Linked DNA regions of Homo sapiens. The protein of the gene in region 1 purifies or fractionates together with the protein of each later gene. This does not show direct contact. Each region holds a gene or a part of one and is shown in the gene's direction. Other genes may lie near its edges.

Region 1 (3,825 bases):
TTTCTGTTCCCATTGCTTTAAATATCCATTTTGTGTAGGCAATTCCCAAGTGTAAATCTTCAGTCCTTAGTTTCTGCCAGAACTTCAGACCGACTTAAAGACATCTCCATGTGGGGGGGGGGGGGGGGGTCTTAGCATTCCAAACTTAACATTCCTAATATAAAACTCTTTTTTTTGTCCTGAAAACTTGTTTTTTAGTAAGTTTTTCCCATCTCGTTACGTGGAAAGGGGAACTGATTGCCCAAGTCAAAAACCCAAGAGTATTTTTTTTAACTCCGCTCCTTTACATTGAGTCTGTCGGCAAGTCCTGTCTGTGCTGCTTCTAGAGTGCATCCCACTCTTCTACCTCCCTCCTTGCCTTTCTTACCACCCCAGTCACTTCTCGCTTGAGCTGCTGCCTGAGAAGCTTCCTCACTAGTCTCTCTGACTTCCACTCTTTTCTACAGTGCATTCTTCACACAATAACCAGGGTGAGCTTTCAAAAATGTAAATTGGATTGTGTCCTTCCCTGCTTAAAAGCCTTCCGGACTCCCAATTGCCCACCTTGTCAGTCATCCCTTTATCTGTTCACGTCTGTTACATGGTGTTTCTGCACTGGAATGGAAGATTTTTGAGACCATGGGTATTGGCTGTATCATTGCATAATTCCCAGTATCTGGTGTATAATAGTTGTGCAGTAAAGACTTCCTAAGTGAACAAGAACATGCTCTTATTCTTATTTCTAATACATTTTTCACTCCCCCACGCCGACCCTTTCTTTTTTCCTTTTTTGTAAAGGATGAGCTTTGGAGGATCCAGGAGAAGCTGGAATGTTACTTTGGCTCCTTGGTTGGCTCGAATGTGTACATAACTCCCGCAGGATCTCAGGGCCTGCCGCCCCATTATGATGATGTCGAGGTAAGAGATGGAGAAAATTGCCCCATGTTGGGAAGAATGAGTTGTTGAGAGCCTGGTTTAGTAGAGTTGTCAGGGTGAGTTCACATTATTCTCTAAGGCTCTTAGGTCTGTATTCGCTCTTTCTGTGCAGTTTCTGAGATATTGATTTCATCAAAATGTTGGGCCAAAGTAAATCCCACTAAACTGGTTTCCTGCTCTGTCTCAAAGGAACAGCTTGTTTCCAACCTTACTAATTTAAAGAGCCACACATTCGTCTGAAACAAGTATTTATTGAATTTATCTACAGAAAGGTGTGCTTGGCTTTTCCTTTAATTTCACAAAGTATGGTCTTTAATAAGATGAGGTCACAAATAATCCTTCATGTGCTTTCATTTTGTTCTTTTTCAGTAGCTGCCAAAAATATGTATATATTTTCCATTTGTGAAAATCTTGGGGCAGCTTGAATGAGGGTCATGGTTTCACTTAAGCATTGGCATCTTGACAAGTGTTGATTTCACTCTGATATGGCTTCCAAAAAAATTTAACTCTTTGGCTTATGTATTCCATAGTTTTATTTTTGTCCTAATATAAGGTGTAAACACAGAGTTATTGGTAAAAAGTCCCCTTTTTCTCCTTTGATAGCAATTTGACATCAATACATTTTCACAAAATGTTATTTTTAATATTTTTAATAGAATATCTTTGACTGAATAAAGAATAAAAAACTCGAAGTTTTCCTATCTCCCCAGGCCCTTTCAACATTCAGGATTTAGACATTCAGTAATATCTGAAGCTTGGCTTTTCCATCAGAGATTATGGGCTTTTAGCTGTCTGATAGAAGATTTAAAGGAATGAGATAGTGGGATATAAAGAACTCAGCGAGGCTCTAAGAAAGTGAAAAGAATGAATATCCAGTGTCAGGATTCACGATTCCGTTTTTAAAAATAAAACCCAGTAGTGGCAACTTTTGTTTAACTGTGGAATGACATGCATTTCTCATCTTTCATTTTTATTTTTTATCGGAAACTTGACCCTTGTGCAGTGTGGGGGTTAGTGGTGCCAACACCTCATGCAGTCAAAAATCTGCTTGTAACTTTTGACTTCCCTAAAACTTAACTACTAGTAGCCTTCCATTGCCTAGATATCTTACTGATAGCATAAATTGGTTAACACTTATTTTGTATGTTATATGTGTTATATACTTTATTCTTCAGTAAAGGAACCTGGAGAAAAGTTATTAAAATTATAAGAAAGGGAAAAGTATTTTTAATATTGTGTTTATCAGTACCGTAAGTTTACATCATTTGTTTACAAGCTGAATCGTCCATCTGAAATGGTGGGTAGCCACAGCTGCAGGCCTTAATCTACAATACACATCAAGCAATTCAACTTTTTCTTGTAACGTTACGACTTTTTTCTGTTTCTCGGGAGTACTTGCAGTAGCAGTAGTGGCACATCATATGGGTCCCATGGTGTTATTCACGGCTTAAGTTGTTGCACTAAACATGATGAAAAATACACAAGAACTGTTGAGAGATCATTTTTTACTGTGATACACAATTCACTGGAGAGAGGAACTGCTCATGTGGAGATAATTAGCATCACACTTGAGCTCGTGGCAATAGCAACAGGAGGTAGCACAAAATTATTACAGTAGTACAATATGTACTAAAGTTAATTTTATTCAGCTATTCCATATTGCATCTTTAAGTTTGTTTACATTTCTTGACTGCAAATGGTGGTCTAGAAGTATTTGTATAGGTAAGTTTTGATAAATTTTAACCTTCTGTAATAGATTTGTGAATATTTTATGGTAGTAGATGATAGACTAGTATCTACATATGTTTTTATATTTGATGCATTTATGACATTCTTAATTCTTTTGATATTTTTCATGTTTTTCAAATTGTTGCAAATCTCCTCCAAATTTTCCAATATAATTTATTGAAAAAAATCAGCATATAAGCGGACCTGCACGGTTCATCCCCATGCTGTTAGGCCAGGCGTGGTGGCTCACGCCTGTAATCACTTTTGGAGGCCCAGGTGAGAGGAGTGCTTAAAGCCAGGAGTTCAAGACCATTCTGGGCAACAAAGTGACACCCCATCTCTACAAAGAAGATAAATTAGCTGGGAGCTGTGGTGCATGCCAGCTTCCCAACTACACAGGAAGCTAGGGCAAGAGGATCATTGGAGCCCAGGAGTTTGAGAGGCTGCAGTGAGCTGTAATTGTGACACTGCACTCCAGCCTGGCCAGGAGAATGAGACTGTCTATAACAACTAAAAAAAAAAAAAAAAAAAAAAAACCTGTGTTGTTCAAGGTTCACCTATATATTTGTCTATTAGCCCCTTAGAGGGCTAATAGTCCGGAAGCACTTTGTGTGTGAGTTGTCAGGAAGCTCTCTGATGCTCCTGGGCCTTGTGGGTCTCTAGGTTTTCATCCTGCAGCTGGAGGGAGAGAAACACTGGCGCCTCTACCACCCCACTGTGCCCCTGGCACGAGAGTACAGCGTGGAGGCCGAGGAAAGGATCGGCAGGCCGGTGCATGAGTTTATGCTGAAGGTATGTGATAACCGTTGTGGGCACCTCATTGTTAGAGCCATTGTGGTTTCCCCTATTGCTAAGACAAGTTCAGGCTCAAGGTTTAGAGTTCGTGTGATGGTCCCCGTGGGAATATATCCCTGGGTTTCAGGGCAGGGTGCTTCTCATTGCTGTCAGCCAGCACATGTAATTTCTGAAGGAGTCTTGGTGGTTTGCACTTGGAGAAGTGGGTTAAGGAAGTATTAAGTTCATTTCCCAAATAACCTGTTTTCATGTACAGTTCAAGTCCAACAGGAAGAAAGAGAATTCAGTGAACCACTGACTCCTCTAGAGGAAAAATGGAAGCTCTGGCCTTGGGCAGCTTCTCCACATCCAAGACGATGGTCAGCACAGGGCTGGAAGTTGCTTAGG
Region 2 (3,825 bases), on another chromosome or scaffold:
AACTAACGTATGAAAAAAGAAGTTGGAGATGGAAATGCATGCAGGGGAACAGTATAAGTATAAGATTGTTTTGTTGGGGGAGGGGCAGAGGGTTAGTGTTCACCTTTCATGGAAGGGATTAGTTCTTAACCTCTTTTGGCCATGGATCCATTGAAAATTGGATGAAAGCTTTGAGCTCTCTCCTTAGGAAGAAGTTTTTATGCTTGTTTATACATAGACTCCAGTTTCAGAACTTCTGCTAAAATGGAATGTAGGTAGAGTAAGAGAAAACAATAAAGTTCTGTATTTATATAACAGTTTACTGTTGAAAATGAACTTTAAAATACATTATTTGATCCTTTAACAACCTTAAGAAATTGGCTGTATGGATTTCTTTATTCTTAACTTAGATTAAATAATTGTCTAGGAAATTAAAAGGCTTATTCAGGGTCGCATCCCTAATAAGAAGCTTATCTCTTGAGTGGGCAAATACTGTGCTTACTGAATGTCTGCTATGTATTAGGCCCTGTGGCAGGCGGTGGGTAAGGATTGCCCTTGAAAATGGTAGAGTTGAGTAGAGCAGTCAGATTTGTAAATATTTAGTGTGAACCTACACATATTTAGTCTTCATTCAGAGCTCTGTTTAACTGTGCCATGCTGGTTTTTAGGGAATATGGAGGAAGAGTATTTCATTAAAACTAAAATATTAATATATACTAACTTTCAGGTTTAAAAAATAACCTGATCTTTTGACTTATATAGAAGTTGAGTATCATCACAAAACATGATTTGTAGGGAATGGGCATGGTTTGTAGGAAGAGAAAGTTCAAGTTGAATGCCAAAAATAATTCATATCCTTTATAGTGTAAAACATTGGAGAGGGCAGCTAAGTGAAAATTGTGACTGTTTAAATTGTTTTTTGGGCTTTTTACAATTTTTTTTTTCTAAAGGTAGACATTATTGACATAAATGTAAAGGTTAATTTTGTGATTTTTGTTTTTAAGCATTTTTTTGAGATAACTGATGACCAATTCGACTTCCATACATACTGCATGAGAAAGATGACCCTTCGTGCCTATGTTGACCTTTTGAGATTAGAAGATATACTCAGAAGACATGCCTTTTATTTCAAGGCTGCTAGATCAGCGATTGAAATATACTTGAAATTGTATGATAATCCCTTAACCAATGAAAGCAAACAACAAGAAATAAACTCAGGTAACTGAATAGGAACTTAAAAGATTTTAAAAGGACACTAAATTTCAGAATGCCATTAGCGTAAACAATACCTAGAAAAATATTAATATATTGTCTGTTGGAGTTGAAGACAAACATTAGATAACTCATATGCCAAAAAACAAAAATGTTGCAGAGAGAGTTAAAAAAAGTGGGATGATATTCTGTAGCTGATGGTTCTAAATTACTTTAATGGAACAACTTAGAATTTTTTTTATTTTTGTCTTCAGAAAGACCAATTTAAGAACTGGGTATGGTGGTTCACGCCTGTAATCACAGCATTTTGGGAGGCCAAGGCAGGCAGATCATTTGAGGCCAGGAGTTCAAGACCAGTCTGGGCAACATAGCATGACCCCTGTCGCTACAAAAATTTTAAAAAGACGAGTTTAGGAAACATAGAAATGTCTGTGGACTAGTTTTTTTCTTTCTTTTTTAAAAAATTGTAACTGAAAATAGCTTTGAGCTCCTTAGGAAAAAATATATAATCTTAAAATTTCTAGTTCCTACTTTATTAAAAATAAGAATATCAGTGAGAATATCTGTACAGTTTTTTATTCACTAGAATGTTAATATCTAGGAATATTTGAGAAATAGTTAGCATGAAATGAGCCTAGGTAACTATCTCAGATATTCCTAGGTAGCTGTTCATTTCTAATATTTATATAGTATTTAGAGATCACAGGTGTTTATATGTATTATCTCACTTATTCTTGAAAGACTTGATACTGAGAAGGACAAAGTGATTTGCCTGGAGTCATATATTGTGTAGGAGGCAGAACTGGGCTACTATTGGTCAATTTTAGTTAATGCAACATTTACTGGCTGTCCTTTGTGTGCCCAATTTTGTTCTAGTCACTGGGGATACACTTTCTAAAAGCTTTTATATGGGTTGCCTCTGCATCCCTCCTTGCCCAGACAAAAAACAGAAAAAAAAAGTATACAGCTGGCCCTCCATTTTTGTGGGTTCCACATGGGTGGAACAAATCATAAATATGTTTTTTTAAATTGCATCTGTACTGAACATGTCCAGACTTTTTTTCTTGTCATTATTAGTATTTCCTGAACAATGCAGTGTAACAACTATTTACATAGCATTTACATTATTTTAGGCATACCTATAGACCATAATATAATTTATGAAAAAGTGAAGTCATTATATGCAACTTAAAGCAAAAGGAAGGTGAAAGATTTAAAGCTGATCTAATTAAAAGTATACAGGAGGATGTACATAGGTTGTATGGAAATACTGTGTCATTTTATATCACAGGCTTGAGTATCAGTGGACTTTGTGGGGGTGGGGGTCATGAACCAATCCCCCACTGATACCAAGGGACAACCATACTAACAGTATGTATTACAGAAGAATATGAAGAAAATGCAAACATTGGCTCAGAATTTTGTTCATTTGGATATTTATAGAAAACTTGTCAGCCAAAGAATTGAAGAAAATGCTTAGCAAGCAGAGAAGAGCTCAGAAAAAGGCTAAACTAGAAGAAGAAAGAAAGCATGCAGAAAGAGAACGTCAACAGAAAAATCAAAAGAAAAAAAGAGATGAAGAAGAAGAAGAAGCCAGTGGCCTTAAGGAAGAACTTATACCTGAAAAATTAGAAAGGGTGAGATGGGTTTTACTATCTTTGTTATTTGGTAAAATTTATGCTATTTGGTTCCGTTCTGACAGTTAACATGATTTATTTAAATCTGTAAGAAGCCATTTGAAATATTTCAAGGTTTTTATAATAGCCGTCAATTATCTTTGAGTGACAGTATACAAATTTTGGCTAATGCAAGTTATACATAGAATTGCAATTGTGGTAGGCAGAGTAATGGCCCTGCAAAGGTGTCTGTGTTCTGGTCCCCCCAGCCTGTGAATATGTAACCTTACATGGCAAGGGAGAATTAAGGTGGGAGATGGAATTTATGGTTGTAATGAATTGACCTCAAGATAGATTAGCCTGGATTGTCCATGTGGTCCTAATATCGTCAAAAGGGGCCTTAAAAGTTGAGGATGCCAGCAGCAGAGGTCAGAATGATGCAATGTGAGGAGGACTCAACCTGCTGTTGCTGGCTTTGAAGATGGAAGGAGGGTGCCCCAAGCTAAGGAGTGTGGGCAGTCTAGAGAGGCTGAAAAAGGCATTGAACGGATTCCCCCTTCGAATCTCCAAAGGAAATGCAGTCCTGCTGACACCTTGATTGTAAGCCCAGTGAGACTGTGTTGGGCTTTTAACCTATAAGAACTATAACATAATAAGTGTGTTGTTTTAAGTCAATAAATATTTGGTAATTTGTTACAGCAGCAATACAATTGTCCATTACATATGGAATCATTTTACCTTATATGTCTTACTAGAAATGTTGTAGCTACAAAGAGATAGCACCTCCAGGATTTTCTCAAGTGTTAATAGTTGTTTTGGGATCAGATTTAAGGAAATATTTAGTTTTCTGGTTTATTCACTGTAAGTCTAGTACAGTTGGCCTTTGAACAACATAGGTTTGAATTTTGAGGGTCCAGCAAAGGATGGTTTGATAATTTTAGAAAGATGTTTGGGTTAAAAAATGTCCAGATAACAGAAGAATTAACTTCTCACCAAGAGCTGGCAGAGAAGTTCCAGA

Evidence for each region.
Region 2: the proteins of RIOX2 (region 1) and NAA16 fractionate together in Homo sapiens (co-fractionation; one large-scale study listed by BioGRID). This does not show direct contact.

The regions. Positions count from the first base shown.
Region 1 is NC_000003.12:97,958,661-97,962,485, reverse strand, and holds part of RIOX2 (ribosomal oxygenase 2), read left to right. Parts: intron 1-777; coding exon 778-897; intron 898-3,306; coding exon 3,307-3,435; intron 3,436-3,825. UniProt on the Homo sapiens protein: Oxygenase that can act as both a histone lysine demethylase and a ribosomal histidine hydroxylase. Is involved in the demethylation of trimethylated 'Lys-9' on histone H3 (H3K9me3), leading to an increase in ribosomal RNA expression.
Region 2 is NC_000013.11:41,366,456-41,370,280, forward strand, and holds part of NAA16 (N-alpha-acetyltransferase 16, NatA auxiliary subunit), read left to right. Parts: intron 1-983; coding exon 984-1,197; intron 1,198-2,634; coding exon 2,635-2,828; intron 2,829-3,825. UniProt on the Homo sapiens protein: Auxillary subunit of the N-terminal acetyltransferase A (NatA) complex which displays alpha (N-terminal) acetyltransferase activity.